4 linked regions of the Homo sapiens genome follow. The protein of the gene in region 2 interacts with the protein of the main gene of each other region in a pairwise test. Each region holds a gene or a part of one and is shown on either strand. Other genes may lie near its edges. The genes, in order: RNASE12, GOLM2, TMEM201 and B3GNT7.

The links.
Region 1: the proteins of GOLM2 (region 2) and RNASE12 interact in a two-hybrid assay, tested with the Homo sapiens proteins (one large-scale study listed by BioGRID).
Region 3: the proteins of GOLM2 (region 2) and TMEM201 interact in a two-hybrid assay, tested with the Homo sapiens proteins (one large-scale study listed by BioGRID).
Region 4: the proteins of GOLM2 (region 2) and B3GNT7 interact in a two-hybrid assay, tested with the Homo sapiens proteins (one large-scale study listed by BioGRID).

The regions. Positions count from the first base shown.
Region 1 is NC_000014.9:20,588,812-20,593,687, reverse strand, and holds RNASE12 (probable inactive ribonuclease-like protein 12 precursor), read left to right. Parts: upstream 1-2,311; 5' UTR 2,312-2,429; intron 2,430-2,926; 5' UTR 2,927-2,964; coding exon 2,965-3,408; 3' UTR 3,409-3,615; downstream 3,616-4,876. UniProt on the Homo sapiens protein: Does not exhibit any ribonuclease activity.
Region 2 is NC_000015.10:44,290,686-44,295,913, forward strand, and holds part of GOLM2 (protein GOLM2), read left to right. Parts: intron 1-5,228.
Region 3 is NC_000001.11:9,594,730-9,599,957, forward strand, and holds part of TMEM201 (transmembrane protein 201), read left to right. Parts: intron 1-1,160; coding exon 1,161-1,281; intron 1,282-2,129; coding exon 2,130-2,324; intron 2,325-3,719; coding exon 3,720-3,896; intron 3,897-5,228. UniProt on the Homo sapiens protein: Critical regulator of angiogenesis and endothelial cell (EC) migration. Promotes the migration of endothelial cells, which is essential for angiogenesis.
Region 4 is NC_000002.12:231,393,625-231,399,418, forward strand, and holds the start of B3GNT7 (UDP-GlcNAc:betaGal beta-1,3-N-acetylglucosaminyltransferase 7), read left to right. Parts: upstream 1-2,085; 5' UTR 2,086-2,179; coding exon 2,180-2,190; intron 2,191-4,106; coding exon 4,107-5,301; 3' UTR 5,302-5,794.

The sequences.
Region 1 (4,876 bases), on a different chromosome or scaffold from region 2:
CAGGTGCCACAGAATAAAGAAGGAATAAGAACAATATGCTGTCCAGATTCCCCTGGAAATCTGGGGAGGAAAAGGGAACTTTATAATGGCATGAGTTGAAATTCTCCCCAAGGAAAATTAATTCTAAGTCAAAAGACTCAGAATTAGTTTTAATTTTTTTTTTTTTTTTTGGTGGGGGATGGAATCTCACTCTGTCACCCAGGCTGGAGTGCAGTGGCACAATCTCTGCTCACTGCAGTCTCTACTTCCTGGGTTCAGGTGATCCTCCCACCTCAGCCTCCCAAGTAGCTGGGACTACAGGCGTGCACCACCACACCCCACTAATTTTTGTGTTTTTATAGAGAAGGGGTTTCACCATGTTGCCCAGGCTGGTCTCAAACTCCTGCCCTTAATTGATCTGCCGGCCTCTGCCTCCCAAAGTACTGGGATTACAGGCATTAGCTACTGCGCCCATTCTGAATTAGTTTTAATTTGATGCAGAAGAAATACTGTGGCATTTTGTTAGATTCTACACCCAGGAGTGGGATTAAAAGGTCTCAGGTCAAACCCTTAATCTTACCAAACGTTTCCAGATTCCTTTCTAGTATTGCCACATCTATTTTTATGCCCAGCAATGTTTTTACCAGCAGTTGATATGATCTGTTTTTCCAATTCTTGATAATCATTTTTGATAATCTGATGGTTATAAACTATTTCTTTGTTATTTCAAGCTTTCATTTCTTTAATTACTAATGAAGTGGAGCATTGCTCATTACCCATTTTGGCTTTATCTTCTGAAATTGGCTTTTCCTTGACTATTTTTTTTTTCCCCTGGGGTTTCCTGTCTTTTTAGGGCTGACATGAAGGAGTTTCTTATATGTAGATGCTAATCTACATATAAATCTAAAACCACAAATGTGGTTTTAGGCATTACAAATATTTTCTTCCAGGCTGCCACACTAGTTAACATTTGGACTCAGTCTCAACTCCTTTTGCAGTGTGATACCCTAGGGATAGGTTTAGTTGCCTCCTTTGGGGAAAATCTTTGTAACGGGGATTACTTCTCTGCCTGTACACTTAGTAAATTATCTGTACTTCAGCTACTTGGAAGTTCTGGCAGGAAATAATGAACATGTTACAGTACATAGATATAATTCTCTGTATACATTGGAAATGTTTCTGCAAGATGTACAAAATCAAATTTTGTTAATTGAAAATCATGTCAAAAATTAAGCATGCACTTATATCTTTGTGGCATTGGGTAACACATATCCAAAACAGGATAGTCTGAATTCTGAAAGGGCACCCAGAATGGACATTTCTGGAAGTAAATATATTCTCCTGGTTGCTCATTTTCACAATTTGAAATTTTGCTTTCGTTTTTGTATAGAAAGAAAAGCATTCTTTGAAGGCTTCTCCAGGATTCTGTTTTTCCTAGATAATTTTTTACGCTGCGATTATTTTCTTCCTGCCAATTAGAAAGACACAGATATGCACAGAGGAGATTTTGTACCTGTCGCTCCAAAAGAGAAATGACTTCAGGGCATGAAGTAGTAAAACTAAGTCCATTTGCCCGTTCCTATATCAACTAACTGGGAGATGATAGCAACAAAAATAATTCTCTGGTCTCAATACTTTGAACCACTGTGTTTTAGCTAAGCCTTTATCCACTAATCTCCCATGTGGGTTTCCCATGTATACCATGGTTCAGTGGTTCCCCTTATAACTTTTGCTATATATTAGAATCACGTGGGGATCCTTTAAGAATCCCCAACCCAGATCGCACACAATATCAGTTAAAGCAGAATGTATCAAGGTGGAAGCCAATACTTTTTTAAATCTCCCGTTGATTCCAACGTTCAGCAGTTTGGGAACTGTCTCCATACTCCTCAGAAGCCCAGGGCTTTATCAAGATTAACGTTATTACAAGGGAATTGTTTTTGTCCTGTGCTGGACGCCGGGTGGAAATGAAACTCGCTAAAACTGGAATTCGAGTGTTTGGCACTGAAAGGATGGGACTCTTGCTTTCCTTCTCACTTCCCATCTCCACCTTAACCTTTTCTACAACTCATTTATTTGTCAATGAAATGAAAAATTTCATGTATTTGTCATAAGGACTGATTGAAAATTTAGAAAGGAGACAGTACTGTGGCTGGCACACATTGGCCTTCACTAAATGTTCTGAAAAGTCCTCACTTGTTTAATGAGGACACATTCAGGACCTGCCTTACCCGACTGTCCTGCTGGAGGTAACTTCTCTTCCTCCCCAGCGGTGCCCAAGCACACCCTGTGCGGGTCCCTCCTTTCTGCTCTTTCTACTTTGGCCCTCCCCACATTCAACAACAGGCTCTCTATCAGTTATTGTCAGGGAACAGCAAGACACAAGCGATTTTGTCAAATTCATGATCAAAAGGCTATGTTACCTGTGACAGTGACCAGAAAAATGACAGGTGAGAGGAGCTAGCACAGAGCCAAGCAGGATTGACAGAGGGAGGGACTTGGAAGGAATTGGGAAGAATAGATGAGTAGAAGGTACTAAAATCATGTGCAATTGGGTGGATTTAAGGTTGAGAAAATTACGGGAAAGAAGGTTATTCAGCAATATGAATAACCTTGACCACTTTCTATATGTCTAGCTCTGTGTTGAGCACTTCGAAGGATTTGAGAAATAGGAGATGTGGTATCTGCTGTCAAAGAACTTGTAGAACAAAACAAACACAACAGGAATAATTTAGAGAACAGCTCAGTACCAAACTCTGAGAGCTGGCATGTTCAGAAAAGGCTTTCTTGGGGAACTATGCCTCCAGCTGGATCTTGCAAGGTCAGTGTGATTTTAATTAGTGGAGAGAAGGAAATAAAATATTCCAAGGATGGGGGAGCAGCCAGGGGTTGGAGCAGGAGGAATCTGACTGTCCTTTGCTACTTTCTATCTTCCCTTACTCAACAGCAGTCAAAGCCAAAGATGCGAAGTCACTCTTACCTCTGATGATAATAATGGTGATAATTTTCTTGGTGCTTCTGTTCTGGGAAAATGAGGTGAATGATGAAGCAGTGATGTCAACTTTAGAACACTTGCATGTGGACTACCCTCAGAATGACGTTCCCGTTCCTGCAAGGTACTGCAACCACATGATCATACAAAGAGTTATCAGGGAACCTGACCACACTTGTAAAAAGGAGCATGTCTTCATCCATGAGAGGCCTCGAAAAATCAATGGTATTTGCATTTCTCCCAAGAAGGTTGCTTGCCAAAACCTTTCGGCCATTTTCTGCTTTCAGAGTGAGACAAAGTTCAAAATGACAGTCTGTCAGCTCATTGAAGGCACAAGATACCCTGCCTGCAGGTACCACTATTCCCCCACAGAGGGGTTTGTTCTTGTCACTTGTGATGACTTGAGGCCAGATAGTTTCCTTGGCTATGTTAAATAACTCAAGATCAGCTCCCGAGTCTGAGATCTCTTCTCTCAATGGCATTGGAGCTGGCTGTGCCTGAGGCAGACCTGGACCGTGGACATGGGGCAATGCCTTGAGCGGAAGGGGAAGCCACTGGTAATTAATTTATCCTTCCTGTATTGCTGGGTTGGGATTGTTTTATTCTGCTTCAATAAAATAATCTTTACTGAATTAAACCATAAATTCTACATGTGTTTCCATTTTTTGTCCCTTATCTCTAGGTCCTTTGATGAGAAACAGGACTGAGATTAAGATAAAGGGAATGAGCCACTCACTTGAGGTGCAAAACTTAAGAGGGCACCAGAAGACCAAAAACCTAGTAACCTAGATGAATATATTTGATTTCAGTGTTTCCTTTTTCTTTTTTTGAGACGGAGTTTTGCTCTTGTTATCCAGGCTGGGGTGCAATGGCACGATCTCGGCTCACTGCAACCTCTGCTTCCCGGGTTCAAGTGATTCTCCTTCCTCAGCCTCCCAAGTAGCTGGGATTACAGGCATGTGCCACCGCGCCCGGCTGATTTTTGTATTTTTAGTAGAGATGAGGTTTCTCCATGTTGGTCAGGCTGGTCTCAAACTCCTGACCTCAGGTGATCTGCCCACCTCAGCCTCTCAAAGTGCTGGGATAACAGGCGTGAGCCACTGTACCTGGCCTTGATTTCAGTATTTTAAAACAATCAAAATTAATGCAAAAATCTTGGATGCTCGCCGGGCGCGGTGGCTCACGCCTGTAATCCCACCACTTTGGGAGGCCGAGGCGGGTGGATCACGAGGCCAGGAGATCGAGACCATCCTGGCTAACACGGTGAAACCCTGTCTCTACTAAAAATACAAAAAATTAGCCGGGCGTGGTGGCGGGCGCCTATAGTCCCAGCTACTCCGGAGGCTGAGGCAAGAGAATGGCGTGAACCCAGGAGGCGGAGTTGCAGTGAGCCGAGATCGCGCCACTGCACTCCAGCCGGGGCGGCAGAGTGAGACTCCGTCTCAAAAAAAAAAAAAAAGAAATCTTGGATGCTCAAAATATCTATCACAAAATTTTGAAGATCCAATCTGACAAGGCTAGGATCAGGGTAAGATGAGTTATGTGAGAAACGTAGTGCAGGGCCAGATCCTGGTATTTAAAATTTTAACATTTGTTCATCAGGGATTATTTTGCATTAAATTTATTTTCTGGCCAGGCGTGGTGGCTCATGCCTGTAATCCCAGCACTTTGGGAGGCTGAGGCAGGTGGAACACTTGAGGTCAGGAGTTTGAGATCAGCCTGGCCAACATGGTGAAACCTCCTCTCCACTAAAAATACAAAAGTTAGTTGGGTGTGGTGGTGCACGCCTGTAATCCCAGCTGCTTGGGAAGCTGACACAGGAGGAGCGCTTGAACCTGGGAGGTGGAGGTTGCAGTGAGCCGAGATCATGCCATTGCACTCCAGCCTGGGCAACAGAGCAAGACT
Region 2 (5,228 bases):
TTGAGCATTACAATTCACATTCTTCTCTCTGGTCTCAAAGGAAAGTCTCTTGTTGTAATTAATACTCTTGATTCCATTCTTTCATCCATTGGACTTTTTGTTGTTGTCGTTGTTGTTGTTGTTGTTGTTTTTTGAGACGGAGTTTTGTTTTTGTTGCCCAGGCAGGAGTGCAATGGCGTGATCTCAGCTCACTGCAACCTCCGCCCCCCCGGGGTTCAAGCAATTCTCCTGCTTCAGCCTCCTGAGTAGCTGGGATTACAGGCATGCACCACCACGCCTGGCTAATTTTGTATTTTTAGTAGAGAAGGGGTTTCTCAATGTTGGTCAGGCTGGTCTTGAACTACCAACCTCAGGTGATCCGCCCGCCTCAGCCTCCCAAAGTGCTGGGATTACAGGTGTGAGCCACCATGCCCAGCCTCTTTTTTTTTTTTTTTTTTTAAAGAGACAGGGTCTCATTGTGTTGCCCAGGCTGGAGTGCAGTAGCTGTTACACAGGCATGATGCACTATAGCATTGAAATCCTGAGCTCAAGTGATCCTCCTGCTTCAGCCTCTGAGTAGCTGGGACTGCAGGTGTGCACCACCTTGCCCAGCTCTACTGAACTGTCTCTTTCAGTTTGTTTCACTTTTTACCTTCAACAGTATGTGGGTGTCCCCTGTTCTCAGTAAAGGAAAAAAAATCTGTATATTCCTTTCTCCCAACCAACCCATTTGTTTTTTCACTTTCATTGCTAAAGTCAAATTATTGATGGTCTACAAATGTTCCATCTACCTATTTTTTCATAACCATCCTAATCTTAAAATGTCTGCCATCTTTCTTTCCTCCCCTTTTTTGAAACTATTCTCTTGAAGGTCACAAATGGCAGTCTTCCTAGTCAAAACCAAAGAATATTTTTATTCTTACTGTATTTGACCTCCCAGTAGTTTGATCCTGTTGATTGTCTCTAGCTATTTGGAAACTATTTTCTTTCTTGCTTCTGTTATACTGGACTCTCCAGTCTTATCTTCTTCACTATATTCTTTGCTGGATTTATTTTTTCTTTCCAGTCACCTAGTAAGGGACTCTGTTATTGAGCCTTTGCTCTCCCATAAGAGCAGTATTCCCCAAAGTAGTGTTAAACAGAATACCCTTCTTGTAATATTTCTTAGGTGGTGAGGAGAAAAAAATGAAAACCTTTTTTGGAGGGAAATGTTAGTGTATCCTCCTCTTGGAATTCATAATGCCTGCTGGAATATAAAAGCTCTGAGAAATCCATTAATAAAGAAGGCTATTCAATTTTGTTTAACTCAGTCTTGTTTAGTTTATTTGATCACAGGTTACTATTTTCATGGCCTACCTATTATGGCACAGAATAATATAGCAAAGCCCACTAGTTTGGGAAATATTGCCCTGGGTATCTTAACTACTTTTAAGTGTTTGGCTAATATTTTATGCAGCTGGCTCACAAGACTGTATCTCTTATTGAATGTCAGTTCTGTGTGTGTATATGTGTATACATACATATATATATATATATATTTTTTTTTTTTTTTAGACAGAGTCTCGCTCGGTTAAGCAGGCTGGAGTACAGTGGTGTGATCTCGGCTCACTGCAAGCTCCGCCTCCTGGGTTCACGCCATTCTCTGCTTCAGCCTCCTGAGTAGCTGGGACTACAGGCGCCCACCTCCATGCCCGGCTAATTTTTTGTATTTTTAGTAGAGATGGGGTTTCACCATGTTAGCCAAGATGGTCTCGATCTCCTGACCTCGTGATCCACCAGCCTTGGCCTCCCAAAGTGCTGAGATTACAGGCGTGAGCCACCGCACCCGGCTAGTTCTGTATATTTTTAAAAGTTTTTTCTTTTTTTAGTTTTGTAGAGATAGGGTGTTGCTATGTTGCCCAGGCTGCTTTCAAACTCCTGGCTCCAAGTGATCTTGCCTTGGGCTCACAAAGTGCTGGGATTCTAGGTGTGTGCCACAGCACTTGGTGTGCCACTTCTGTATTTTGAGCTGGCTATAACAACTTTCTTGGGCTGCTTGTGAATGTCTGTTCTTGGGGTTAATGAGGACTCTCTGAGCTGCTTAGTAGAAAGGGTAGTCTTGGTCTCTGTATTTTAAACTTAACAGTTTTTCAGGGTTTTTTTTATTGTTATTGTTGTTTGTTTGTTTTGAGACAGGGTCTTGCTCTGTCACCCAGGCTGGAGAGCAGTGGTGCGATCATAGTTTACTACAGCCTCAAACTCCTGGGCTCAAGCGATCCTCCCACCTCGGCCTCCCAAGTAGCTGGGACTATAGGTGCATGCCACCATGATGGTCTAATTTTTTATTTTTTGGTAGAGATGAGGGTCTTATTATCTTGTCCAGGCTGGTCTCCAGTTCCTGGCCTGAAGTGATCCTCCTGCCTTGGCCTTCTAAAGTGCTGGGTGTGAGCCACCATACTTGGCCACTTAACAGTTTTAGATCTGGAAAATTATTGGAAAATTAGATCTGGAAAACTAAACAAGTGATCCTCCTGCCTTGGCCTTCTAAAGTGCCAGGTGTGAGCTACCATACCTGGCCACTTAACAGTTTTAGATCTGGAAAATTATTGCAAAGATAGTACAGGGAGTTTTTATATACCCCACACCCAGTCTTCCCTATTATTAACATCTTAACATAAGTATGATGCATTTGTCACAATTAATGAACCAGTATTGATATCTTATTATGAAAGTCCGTACTTTATTCAGATTTCTTCAGTTTTCGCCTGCTGTCCTTTTTTAATTCCAGGATCTCATCCAGAGTTACGTTACATTTAGACATTATGTCTTCTGAAGCTTCTTTTCAGCCTTTCCTTGTTTTTTAGACCTTTTCTTGTTTTTGATAATCTTGACAATTTTAAGGATTACTGATTAGGTGTTTTATATAGAATGTCCCTCAATTGGGAATTGTCTGAGTCTTTTCTCAGGATTAGACTGGAGTTGTGGGTTTTCGGACAAAGACCACAGAAGTAAAGTACCAATCTCAACACATCATAACATGGGTATGTTTTTCAAAATGATTTATCACTACTTATGTTAACCTCTATCACCTGGCGTGAGATAGTGCTTGTCAGGTTTCTCCACTATAATGTACTCTTAAAAAAAATCTGTTTCCATACTGTACACTTTGGAAGAAAGTATGTTCACCCTCACTTAATGAGTGGGTAGTTATGTTTTTCCTCCTTAAGGACAGAGTATCAACATAAACTATATGGAATTCTTCTGCAAAGGAGATTTGTCTCTTCTCCCTCATTTATTAACTTAATAATTTACTTGTATCGGTATGGACTCATGGATATTTATTTTGTACTTTGGCTTATAATCCAATATTAGTTTATTTTTTTGTTGCTCAAATTGTTCTGGCTCTGGCTGTTGGAGAGCTCCTTCATTAACTCCTGTATCCCCTTCTTACTTTTATAGTGCCAGAAAGTACAGAGAATTTCCACATACCCTACACCCAGTTTCATTGTGACATACCCCTTTCTTACTTTTTGGTACTTTTAGATGCTCTAGGCCTATCTATACGTTTCCTACTCCAGCCCTAGAGTCAACCATTTCTCCAAGGAACCTTGGTTCCTTTTATTGGAGAATGGCATTAGAAACCAAGGTCTGCAGCTGGGCACGGTGGCTCACGCCTGTAGTCCCAACACTTTGGGAGGCTGAGGCTAGTGGATTTCTTGAGGTCAGGAGTTCAAGACCACCCTGACTAACATGGTGAAACCCCATCTCTACTTAAAAATACAAAAATTGGGCCAGACACGGTGGCTCACGCCTGTAATCCCAGCACTTTGGGAGGCCGAGGTGGGCAGATCACAAGGTCAGGAGTTCGAGACCAGCCTGGCTAGCATGGTGAAACTCCGTCTCTACTAAAAATACAAAAAATTAGTCGGGTATGGTGGTGCGCACCTGTAGTCCCAGCTACTTGGGAGGCTGAGGCAGGAGAATTGCTTGAACCCGGCAGGCAGAGGTTGCAGTGAGCTGAGATCACGCCATTGCACTCCAGCCTGGAGGACAGCGAGACTCCATCTCAAAAAAAAAAAAAAAAACACCACCACCACAAAAAAAAACAAAAATTAACCGGGCATGGTGGGGGGCGCCTGTAATCCCAGCTACTTGGGAGGAGTATCGTTTGAACTGGGAAGCAGAGGTTGCAGTGAGCCAAGATTGTGCCACTGCACTCCAGCCTGGGCAACAGAGTAAGACTCTGTCTCACAAAAAAAAAAAAAGAAACCAAGGTCTGCTTGGCAGATATGCTCGTTGCTACTATAAGGTTATCTTTGGAAATCAAGGAATCCTTTCTCCAGAGGAATCAGAAAGGTGATATTTGGTTTCTTTCACATTATTATGCCATTCTGTCACTTCCAGTCTGTTACCTGGGTTACTAAACACATAAATTCCTTTTTTTTTTTTTTTCTGAGATGGAGCCTCACTCTGTCACCCAGGCTGGAGCGCAGTGGCGCAGTCTCAGCTCACTTCAACCTCCACCCGCCGGGCTGAAGTGATTCTCCTGCCTCATCCTCCTGAGTAGCTGAGACTACAGGTGCATGCCACCATGCCTGGCTAATTTTTGATTTTTTAGTAGAGACAGGGTTTCACCATGTTGGCCAGGCTGGTCTTTAACTCCTGACCTCAAGTGATCTGCCCACCTTGGCCTCCCAAAGTGCTGGATTACAGGCATGACCCACCACATCCGGCCTTGAACATGGAAATTCTTTAAGGGAGCTTTAAGTTGCTCCTGTCTTGTCCAAAGAAGTGAGAAACAACCCCCACTTCTCTGAGATTCCCTCAAACTTTCTGATTTTTTAAACTTCCCTCTAAAGGGTTTCAGCCTGGAGGGGTGTATTAGTTTGCTAGGGCTGCCATAACAAAATGCCACAGACTAGGTGGCTTAAACAGCAGAAATTTATTTTCTCACATTTTTGAAGGTTGGAAGTCTAAGACCAAGGTGCCAGCAGGGTTGTTTTTCTCTGAACTTCTCTCCTTGGCTTGCAGATGGCAACCTTCTTGCTGCTTTATTGTGACATGATAGTCCCTCTGTATGCACACATCCTTGGTGTCTTTTCCTCTTCTTAAAAGGATACGAGTCATATTGGATTAGACCCACTGTAACTTAAGCACTTTAAAGACCTTGTCTCCAAATACAGTTACATTCTGAGATCCTGGAGGCTGGGACTTCAACATGTGAATTTGGGGGAAACACAGTTCATCTTAGAACAAGGGAGATCCACCAC
Region 3 (5,228 bases), on a different chromosome or scaffold from region 2:
TTTGCAGAGCACAGCACCTTTCTGTCTTGTGTCACTGCGTCCTTGCAGCATGCAGAAGCCGGGGGTGCTGTGGTTGCCCCCACTTCACAGATGTGGACACTGAGGCTGAGAGTACAGGAACTTCCTGGGGCTCCGTCCTCCTTTCTCTGAGCAGCGCCTCAGGATGAAAGGCCAGAGGGCCGTGCTCTCTGGTCCTGTGGACGGGGGGCCGTCTGTGCAGGGAGTGGCTGCCCACTCTGGCAGGGGCTCAAGCGGTGTCCTCGAGCTGGAGGTGGCCCCTGGGGGAGAGGTGGAGAGTCGGAGCAGCAAAGCCGGGGCCCCAGGGCTCCCACAGCTGCTGCCTGTCACCCACATTGTTCCTGGATTTCCGGAACTGGGGGGCTTTTTTGGGCAGTGGCGGTCTCTCTGCCCACCCCTCCCCAGTCCCCCAGTGTCCCACAACCAATGAGGTGGGTAGAGGGGGGCCCAGAGCATAGATCCCCCAGTGTCTGGGCTGGGATTATCCCGAGGCCCCACCTGTCACCACACGTGTAGCCAGCGAGGGCCACTGTCCTCTCCACCAGAGAGGGTTGGCCCCAGGCTGGGCAGCTGTCACTTGCTCCCTCCCCTCAGCCTCCTTGGCTCTCACATCCTGGGACTGTCTCTCTCTGGAGCACAGGAGGCCCCTTTCAATCTGGAGGCTCCCTGGGGCGCACCCTTTCTGCAGCCCAGGATCAAGGACCTCGTGGGGGAGGGGTGGTCCTCGAACCTGGTCCCAGTCAGCCCTGGTTTGGCCAGCCCTGGCCCCTGTTGTGCTCCATGTGTGAGCCCCAGGCCACCAGGAGCAGGTGGCCCTGGGTCCCCGTGCGGCCGCACTGGAGCCTAGGGATCTGCTGAGGCTCCAGCTGGCCTCCTCCCCTTGAAGACTGAGAAGCCCAGGTTGGCCGTGGCCTCCCTGTCTGGTCCTGGGTGGATGCAGCCGTACCTAGTCTGCGTTCCTCTCCTTCAGAGCCCTTGTTCCTCCTGCTGTTCTGGGGCCAGCATCTCCAGCTTTGCATCCCCAGATCCCAGATCCCACTCCCAGCACCCTTTCCCTGGTGGCCCTGGGGCAGGGCATGGAGGTCCCTCTCCAGCAGGTGCTGGGGTCTTCCAGGCCAACCCGCTCTTTCCTTGGTCCACAGGATGAAGCCAACGCACACGATGGTCAACTGCTGGTTCTGCAACCAGGATACGCTGGTGCCCTATGGGAACCGCAACTGCTGGGACTGTCCCCACTGCGAGCAGTACAACGGCTTCCAGGAGGTGTGGGTCACAGGCAGGCGGACGGGTGGGCACGCGGGGGTGGGGATCTTGAGATTTGCACCTTGAGACCACCCTGTGTCCCTGCCCTGCCCCGGGGCTCATGGACCCCACACCCTCATACCCTGTCCTCTCCAGGCCCTGAGCATGGTGTTTCGTGTACATTGTCTCACTCGATTCTCACCACTGCCCTGGCGCTGTCTCCTCACTTGAGGAGGAACCCGACGCAGGGAGCCATGGCAGTTTGTCCAAGGTTACACCACTAAAAGTGGCAGATTTGGGGTTCACACCCAGGTCTTTCTGGCTCTGCATCTCATTCTCTGTACTATATCAGGGCTAGCAAACCTTTTCTGCAAAGGGCCAGATAGTATTTTAAGCTTTGGAAGCCATTTGGTCTCTGTCACAACTGCTAACCCTGCTGAGCCACCGTAGGTAATACAAGAGTGAATTAGCCTGGCTGTGTTCCAATAAAACTTGATTGCAGAAACAGGCAGCTCCTCCACGGGTCATAGTGTGCTGTCCCCTGGACTAGACCAGGGTTTGCAGACTGAGTTCCGAGAGGGTAGGGCTCTGAGGACAGATGCTGGCTAGAGGTGTGTGGGTGGGCGGCGGGCTGCAGGCCCTGCTCTGTGCTCAGGCTAGGTGGCTTCACTCGGCATCTGGGCCTTTGGGTTCCATGGAGGTGTCTTGAGAAGAAAAGCAGCTGCTGTTGTGTGCAGAAGAAAAAAAAGAATGGAGATGTTTGAGATCTACCATCACTTGCCTGGAGCGGGGCGGGCCCCCAGGGACATCACCAAGCCTGAGCCAGCTGGGAGGGCCTGCCTGCCTCGAGTCCCACCTCTCTCCCGCAGAACGGCGACTACAACAAGCCGATCCCCGCCCAGTACTTGGAGCACCTGAACCACGTGGTGAGCAGCGCGCCCAGCCTGCGCGACCCTTCGCAGCCGCAGCAGTGGGTGAGCAGCCAAGTCCTGCTGTGCAAGAGGTGCAACCACCACCAGACCACCAAGATCAAGCAGCTGGCCGCCTTCGCTCCCCGCGAGGAGGTGAGGCCGGGTTGGGAGGGCAGGGGTCCTGGCTGGGGCCAGGGATGCTTAGAGCAGCCGGGGGACAGGCACGTGCAGGGTGCTGACTCTGGTCCTCTGGCCCCTGCTCTGCTAGACAGCGGCTTTTCTGTTCTGAGTGCCCAAAGGGGCCCCCTCATCCTTGCCACTGCCAGCACATTCCAGGATGTGTTAGTTCTTCTGACCCCGTTGGAGCTGAGCTGCTTCTCCCCATGTCTTACAGTCACTGCTATCGGGGTTCCAAGCCTAGGAACACCGTGGAAACCCCAGCACCTGCCAGTCCAGAGGAATTTGTCCCTGGGCAGAGGGAGGAAGGGACCTTGGGTTCCAGGTGGGGCCCTGTTGGACCCACTCTGTCCTGTTTCTCTGAATCAGCCTTGCCTGCTGGTGGCCCCGGCAGTCTGCTGTGGGGTTGGTGGAGGATGCCACTGGCTTCTGGGAGGAGGAGGAAGCTAGACATTGCTGAGAGGCTTGGCATTAAGGAGCTGGGCTGAGCTGGGAGCCTCACCTTGCCTGTGCCCTCCATGGAGTCCAAGAGCCTTGCTTACTGGCTGCTCCTTCCTGCCCTCGGCCAGCCCAGGGAGTCCTGTCACCTCAAGAGGCAGGTCCCAGCTGGGGCCCAGAGACACTGGCTTTCCTGGGGTCCAGCCTGGGAGGGAGGGAGAACAGAGGTGAACTCAGGCCAAGGCAGGGATGGGGAACCTGCGAGAAGGGGAAGGCAGGGGTGACTTGGCAGCCAGGCAGCTTTTCGGCATGCTTGGTCGCAGCAAGGGATCACACTCCTGACCCTCCTGGCCTTGCAGGCCAAAACGTTTGCTTCCTCAGAAACAGGGAGGGAGAGTTGCAGTGCTGCACGTCTAAGGGCTGAGAAGGAGGGGACTTGTCTTCTGGGCTATTTCAGAAGCTGAAAGAAACCTTCACCTGCCACAAAGACAGGCCTGGCCAGGGGCTCTCTAGCATTCAAGCGGAAGGGCAAGCGCCACAGTCGGGGTTGTCCATCTGCCCCACTCCAGGCAGTGTCAGCCCGCAGCCACCTTCCCCCATGTTCACCCACCTTCTTGGAGCTCTGCATCTGGGGAGCAGACCCTGAGCTCCTGGCCTGCGGGTGCGTCCCTGGAGCAACAGAACCTTGTTAGTGTCCCCATCACTTGTGGGCCCTGCCCTGGATTGGCTCTAACTCCCGGTAGTCCACATGGCTCTACACAGTGGGCATTTGTCCTGTTGGGCAGAGGGGAAGCAGGTTCAAAGTGGGGTTGACTTGCCCCCGGTCATCCCCTAGTAAGTGGCAGGTCAGGATCTGATTCCACGTCTGACCTGTAAGATGGAGGCAGCTCATCCACCCCTGCAGATGCCGAGCCTGTTCCCCCAACCCCACAGGGCAGGTATGACGAGGAGGTCGAGGTGTACCGGCATCACCTGGAGCAGATGTACAAGCTGTGCCGGCCGTGCCAAGCGGCTGTGGAGTACTACATCAAGCACCAGAACCGCCAGCTGCGCGCCCTGTTGCTCAGCCACCAGTTCAAGCGCCGGGAGGCCGACCAGACCCACGCACAGGTGAGAGGCGGCATCCACAGGGCGGGGGTGGGGGTGTTGAGTTTGTTCAGGAAACCCTCCCAGGAGGCTGGGCACTAGTGACCAGAGGGTAGCTCTTCAGAGCTGAGCCCCTTTATTTTTATTTTATTTTATTTTATTTTTGAGATAAAGTTTTGCTGGGATTACAGGCACACGCCACCACGCCTGGCTAATTTTGTATTTTTGGTAGAAACGGGGTTTCTCCGTGTTGTTCAGGCTGGTCTCGAACTCCCGATCTCTGGTGATCCGCCTGCCTTGGCCTCCCAAAGTTCTGGGATTACAGATGTGAGCCACTGCACCCGTCCTTTTTTTTTTTTAAACAGAGTCTTGCTCTGTCACCCAGGCTGGAGTGCAGTGGCACGATCTCGGCTCACTATAACCTTGCCTCCCAGGTTCAAGCGATTCTCCCGTCTCAGCCTCCCGAGTAGCTGGGATTACAGGCACCCGCCATCATGCCCAGTTAATTTTTATATTTTTGTAGAGGTGGGGTTTCACCATGTTGGCCAGACTTGTCTTGAACTCCTGACCTCAGGTGATCCTCCCACTTTGGCCTCCCAAAGTGCTGGGATTACAGGCGTGAGCCACCATGCCTAGCCTTTTATTTATTTTTAAATTTTATTTTTTGAGACAGTTTCACACTGTCGCCCAGGCTGGAGTGAAGTGGCGCGATCTCGGCTCACTGCAATCTCTTCCTCCCGGGTTCAAGCAATTTTCCTGCCTCAGCCTCCTGAGTAGCTGGGATTACAGGCACGCATCACCACAGCCGACTAATATTTATATTTTAGTAGAGACGAGGTTTCACCCTGTTGCTCAGGCTGGTCTTGAACTCTTGAACTCCTGACATCAAATGATCCACCCGCCTTGGCCTCCCAAAGTGCTGGGATTACAGGCCTGAGCCACCGCACCCGGCCTCCAAATAACTGTTTCCATCATTTTGTGAAGTTCTCACCAAAAATTCCTATTGTGAGGTTTTTTTGTTTGTTTTGTTTTGTTTTTTGAGACGGAGTCTCGCTCTGTCGCCCAGACTGGAGTGCAGTGGCGTGATCTCGGCTCACTGCAAGCTCCGCCTCCCGGGTTCACGCAATTCTCCTGCCTCAGCCTCCCAAGTAGCTGGGACTACAGGCACCTGGCTAATTTTTTGTATTTTTAGTAGAGACGGGTTTTCACCGTGGTCTCAATCTCCTGAGCTCGTGATCCGCCCGCCTCAGCCTCCCAAAGTGCTGACATTACAGGCGTGAGCCACTGCGCCCGGCCCCTATTGTGATTTTAATTGGAGCTGACATAAATGGACAGATAACTGTGGCAAAAGTTAAC
Region 4 (5,794 bases), on a different chromosome or scaffold from region 2:
GACATCAATGATAACACTAACAGTAGCCGGCCTGCCACCAAGTTCTTTACATAGGGGATGCCTATGTCTGTGCTTCATTGGCGTCATCTCACAAGGCCCTGAGCTGGCAGGAAATTGAGGTCTCAAGGGGAAAAGCCACCTGCCCCCAGTGACAACCAGGAAGTGCAAGACTCTGACCCAACGCCCATGCCTGCCATCCCCAAACATGGGCTCAAAACCCCCTTCCCAGGGACGGCTGTGTCCACCCCTCAGCAGGAGGAGGAGACCCCACAGCACCGGGTGAGAGGTCAGTGCTGAAGCCAGGGAGGCAGCTCTCAGCAGGGCACCTGTGTGGAGCCAGGGAAGCCAGGGCCACACTTGCAGGGTGAAGTGGGGAACTCGGAAGGCTGGGCAGTGGAGCAAAATGCTTGGTGCCCTGCGGGAACCGGTGGCCAAGGCTACACTGGGATGAAGGGAGCCGTGGAGCTGCAGAATCTGCGGGTGGCCCTCAGTGGCAGGCAGCCAGGCCAACAGGGGCTTTGGGCTGCAGGTCAGCCCCTCCCCTGCTCTGGAACTTTTGGAGGGCCATTACAAAGGACATCAGCCCCAAGATACTCCTCTGAAATTCTGCCTGAAAGGCCCTTCACATTCCCTAATTGGCACTTACAACATTCCAGAACATTCTATGGTACCTTAAGTTTCTCCTCCCCCTCCAAAGGGCCCTTGAACCTTAAGGATAGGGCAGAAGGGGCTCCTCACCCTGGCCTCGAGGGCTTAAGATCCAGCTGAGGACTCCTAGCCTCCCTGTGTGCTGGGCAGGAAAGTAGCTCCATGTCACTGCTGTCCCTGGGAAAGGAAAAAAGGTTGAGGAAGGGCTCAGAGCCAGCCTTCAGACCAGGCAGGAAGGGTTCAGAGCCAGCCTTCAGGCCATGCAGGCCTCCTGGATGTGCTTACTAACTCTGGGCTCGCTGTTCTCTGAGCTGGCTGGGAGTTCCCCTCTGCACCCCCGTTTCCTCCCCTGTAAGGTGGGAATAATAGCGTATGTCTCTAGGATTAAGTGAGCCAGTCATGCATGGGCCGAGAACCAGGTTTGGCATATTGTAGCTGCTCAGTGGACGTTAGCTGTTATGATTGGACCACAACGTGCTTCCGTTTCAATTCTGTGGGCCTTTTGGAGGTCCTGCTGGATGCTAAGCACCGAAACCTCAACCCGGAACAAGACCAGAACAACCTGAGCAACAACAGGACCAGCGATGGCTCTCCCTGCTGGAGGATTCTGGAAGTCACCTGGCTGGACCAAGCCCTCTCCGTGTTCTCTGTCAGCCCACTCCCCAGAGCCGCTAGGCCTGATGTGCACAAGCAGACTAATAAAGGCTTGAGGACAAAAAGGGTTTTGAGTGATAAGTGAAAAAAGAAAGGAGATAGGGCTGGGCCAACAGGCCTTCCCTTGGTGGTGGGGAGCCCTCAGAGGTGGGAGGAACCCCAGAGGTGAAGAGAGGGACATGGTGGGGGCACAAAAAAAGCTTCCAGAGCCACAGGCCTGGGCGAGTCCTGACATGGAGCCCAGTCTCATACGGCCTCTTTCCCTAGTGGCTGGCTTTGCTCCTGGCCCTAGGTAGCCCAACAGCTGGGCAAGGGGTCCGTCTGGTCAGGGGAAAGGTGCAGGGGCAGAAGGTAGCAGAGGGAGAAAAGGACACCCTGTCTGCCTCTGGCCCCAAAGACAAGTCCGAATGGGGCCAGAGGGAAATGGCTGGGCCTTGGGGTGCCCCAGGGTCTTGGAGGGGACCGGGTGTTCAGGTTTCGCACAAGTACAGGAGGGACCGGCGACCGCCCTCCCCCCGCCCCGGGAGGCTCCGCCAGGGACAGGCGTCCCCGGGATTGGAGGTGACCCCCGTGGGTTCCGAAGCCCCGCCTCGGCCATGCACTGTCTACTAGGCGCGCTTGGGGAGCCTAGGGGCCGTCTCGGAGAAATGGGGTGGTCCCCGCCAGGCGGCGGCGGGGCGGGCCCTGGGCGCCGAAGGGGTTAAGGCACCTGGGCCACCGCCCCTGCCGGCCCCTCCTCCCGCGGCCGGGAAGAGGAAAGTCGCGGCGGGGGCGCGGCCCGGTCTCCGTCCCCACCCGCCCGCCGTCCCGCCGGCCCGAGCCGTGGCGCCCAGAGCTGCGAGCCGCTCGCCCCTCCGCCGCTCCGGCCCGGGCCGCCATGTCGCTGTGGTGAGTGGGGCTGGGGGCCGTCGGGGGCCTGGGCGGGGGCGTGGGCCCGGGGCTCCCCCTCCTCCGTGGCCACAGACGGGCGCCGGGACTCCCGGGATAGGAGATGCCCCCGCGCGCGCCGCGCCGGCCTCAGTTTCCCGGGGGCGGATGGGCGGGCGGGCGCGGCGGCGGCGGCGGGAGATGTTCGCGGTACGCGGCCCCGGACCCGTGGGGGACGTCGAGGGGTCTCGGGGCGCCGCGCTCAGCTCCCCGGCCCCGCGGCCCTGGACACCGCTCCAGGACCCTGGCGGCTGGGACCCCAGGTCTTGCCGGCAGCTGGGTCCCCTCTCCCTTCCAGACCCCTGAGGGCCCCCTGCGTCCGGGCCACTCTCCTCCTCTCGGGGCTTCCTTCCGCGGGACCTCGGACCGCCGCCCGCCCGGCCCCTCTCCGCCCCTCCCGGGCTTTCCCTACGAATGGAGCGGACCCGGCAGGTGGAGCGCCCGCAGCCCAGGGCCTCGCCGCCTTCCCGGTGCACCCCCCGACCTCCCCCGTCCCGGCCTCGGTGGGCGGCTTCCCTGGAACCCCTAGGGCTGGCAGGGCCGGATCCGGAGCCCTCCGTTTCCTCCCCGGAGAGCTGGACCTTGGGTCACACCCCCCAGCCTGCACCTAAGGTGCCCCTGTCTTCCTCCAACCACATGCCCCAGCAACCTGGGGACCCTATGGGGAAAATGTCGCTCTATGGGGCTCAGCCTGCATTCACCCTGGGGCCTGGACCTGCAACCGGACCAGCCCTCAGGGCAACCCAGGCGTCTCCACGGGCTGCCTGTCTCTCCTGGCACCCTGCTCCTCCCCCTTGGAGGTCAGCGCCATCTCTCTGCTAGGCTGGCCCTGGAAGGCCACTCTGCTGTCCCCAGAGCTCTCAGCCCCCAGGTCTCCACTGGGGAGGGTGGGGCAGGTGTCCTGGCAGCCCCCGGAGGGTGAGATGAAGAGAGGAGGTCCTTCAGGACAGGGGCTCAGGCCCCAGGGCTTGGGACGACCAGCACTCCTGGCAGAGAGCTCTAATTTCTGCTTCCGAAATGGGTGTGGACCGGGGTTGGGGTGGGGGGGTCTCTGGGCAAGAAGGGTCCCTCAAGGGCTGGAGCTGCAAATGTGCCCCCTCCCAGGGAGTAGAGCTGTAGCCTCATGTCTTCTAATGGGGTGTTATGAGCTGGGGATGTTAAGGTAGGGGTGAGGGGCAGTGCCATGCTAGAGGTGCTCACTGCATCCTTGGGCCTCCATCAACCATGAGGGCTGCTCTTTGTTGGGTGAGACAGACTGGAGAAGGGGGAGGAGGGCCAGTCTTCCTCAGGTCCCAAGCTCGAGCCACTCTCCAATGTGCCCCACATGTGATGGAGCTCCCGGGCGGCACAGAGGATCAGAGGGTGCCCTCTCAATGACTCTGGCTCTGAGTCACCTAATGATACCGATACCTACTGCTGTGGGTAGGTACACCGCAGGGAAATGAAAGGCATTGGGGTTCCAGGCGTGGGGAACAGGGCAGAGGTTTCCACCTGAGGCCCTCCTGTTAAGGTGACAGCATTCCCCTAACTGTGCACCCGCTGCCTGGTACTTTATATAGCACTCCAATCCTGTGTTTTAGCCCCATTTGGGGGAAGAAGAAATCGTGGCTCAGAGTGGTTGTAAACCACTCATTCAGCTTGTAAGCGTCAGGGCCTGATTCCACAGTGCTCCTTGAGGAGAGGGCAGGGTGGGAGAAAGAAAGGGCAGGGTGGGAGAGGAAGCGGGACCCTACCCTGACAGCTTAGGGACTCCGGGACTGAGCCTGTGCCCAGGTCCACTTGCCCGTCTGGGACCACCCAGCCTCCCAAGGGGGGCGCCAGGAGAGCCCTGGGCTCATCTTTTCTCTCTCCTCTGTACTGTCCGCTCTCCCCCACAGGAAGAAAACCGTCTACCGGAGTCTGTGCCTGGCCCTGGCCCTGCTCGTGGCCGTGACGGTGTTCCAACGCAGTCTCACCCCTGGTCAGTTTCTGCAGGAGCCTCCGCCACCCACCCTGGAGCCACAGAAGGCCCAGAAGCCAAATGGACAGCTGGTGAACCCCAACAACTTCTGGAAGAACCCGAAAGATGTGGCTGCGCCCACGCCCATGGCCTCTCAGGGGCCCCAGGCCTGGGACGTGACCACCACTAACTGCTCAGCCAATATCAACTTGACCCACCAGCCCTGGTTCCAGGTCCTGGAGCCGCAGTTCCGGCAGTTTCTCTTCTACCGCCACTGCCGCTACTTCCCCATGCTGCTGAACCACCCGGAGAAGTGCAGGGGCGATGTCTACCTGCTGGTGGTTGTCAAGTCGGTCATCACGCAGCACGACCGCCGCGAGGCCATCCGCCAGACCTGGGGCCGCGAGCGGCAGTCCGCGGGTGGGGGCCGAGGCGCCGTGCGCACCCTCTTCCTGCTGGGCACGGCCTCCAAGCAGGAGGAGCGCACGCACTACCAGCAGCTGCTGGCCTACGAAGACCGCCTCTACGGCGACATCCTGCAGTGGGGCTTTCTCGACACCTTCTTCAACCTGACCCTCAAGGAGATCCACTTCCTCAAGTGGCTGGACATCTACTGCCCCCACGTCCCCTTCATTTTCAAAGGCGACGATGACGTCTTCGTCAACCCCACCAACCTGCTAGAATTTCTGGCTGACCGGCAGCCACAGGAAAACCTGTTCGTGGGCGATGTCCTGCAGCACGCTCGGCCCATTCGCAGGAAAGACAACAAATACTACATCCCGGGGGCCCTGTACGGCAAGGCCAGCTATCCGCCGTATGCAGGCGGCGGTGGCTTCCTCATGGCCGGCAGCCTGGCCCGGCGCCTGCACCATGCCTGCGACACCCTGGAGCTCTACCCGATCGACGACGTCTTTCTGGGCATGTGCCTGGAGGTGCTGGGCGTGCAGCCCACGGCCCACGAGGGCTTCAAGACTTTCGGCATCTCCCGGAACCGCAACAGCCGCATGAACAAGGAGCCGTGCTTTTTCCGCGCCATGCTCGTGGTGCACAAGCTGCTGCCCCCTGAGCTGCTCGCCATGTGGGGGCTGGTGCACAGCAATCTCACCTGCTCCCGCAAGCTCCAGGTGCTCTGACCCCAGCCGGGCTACTAGGACAGGCCAGGGCACTTGCTCCTGAGCCCCCATGGTATTGGGGCTGGAGCCACAGTGCCCAGGCCTAGCCTTTGGTCCCCAAGGGGAGGTGGAGGGTTGAGGCCTACGTGCCACTGGGTGTGGTGGGGTGCAGGTAGCCAGAAAGGGACCTCCCTGTGTGGATAATTCTAGGAAACTGAGGCCCAGGAACGGTTGGAGCTGCCCAGTCTGGAGGCCCTCTCTGAGGAGCGAGGCGCCAGGCCCTGGCAGCCCTCCTGACCTGGGTCCGTTGCTGGCCCCCTCAGATGTGGTGGGAGGTCCTGGTGACCTCTGGAGGAACGCTGTGCTCAGGTACCTGGGCTAGGCCTGGCCTGATGGGTCTGTGGCCGCCCCTCGTCTTCACAGGGAAGAGTCTTCTGTGAAATGCCTCAGTCTCCCCAGAGGCCGGGCGGCCCTGGCAGGAGAAACTCAACCCTGTGCGGGCTCACAGGCACCC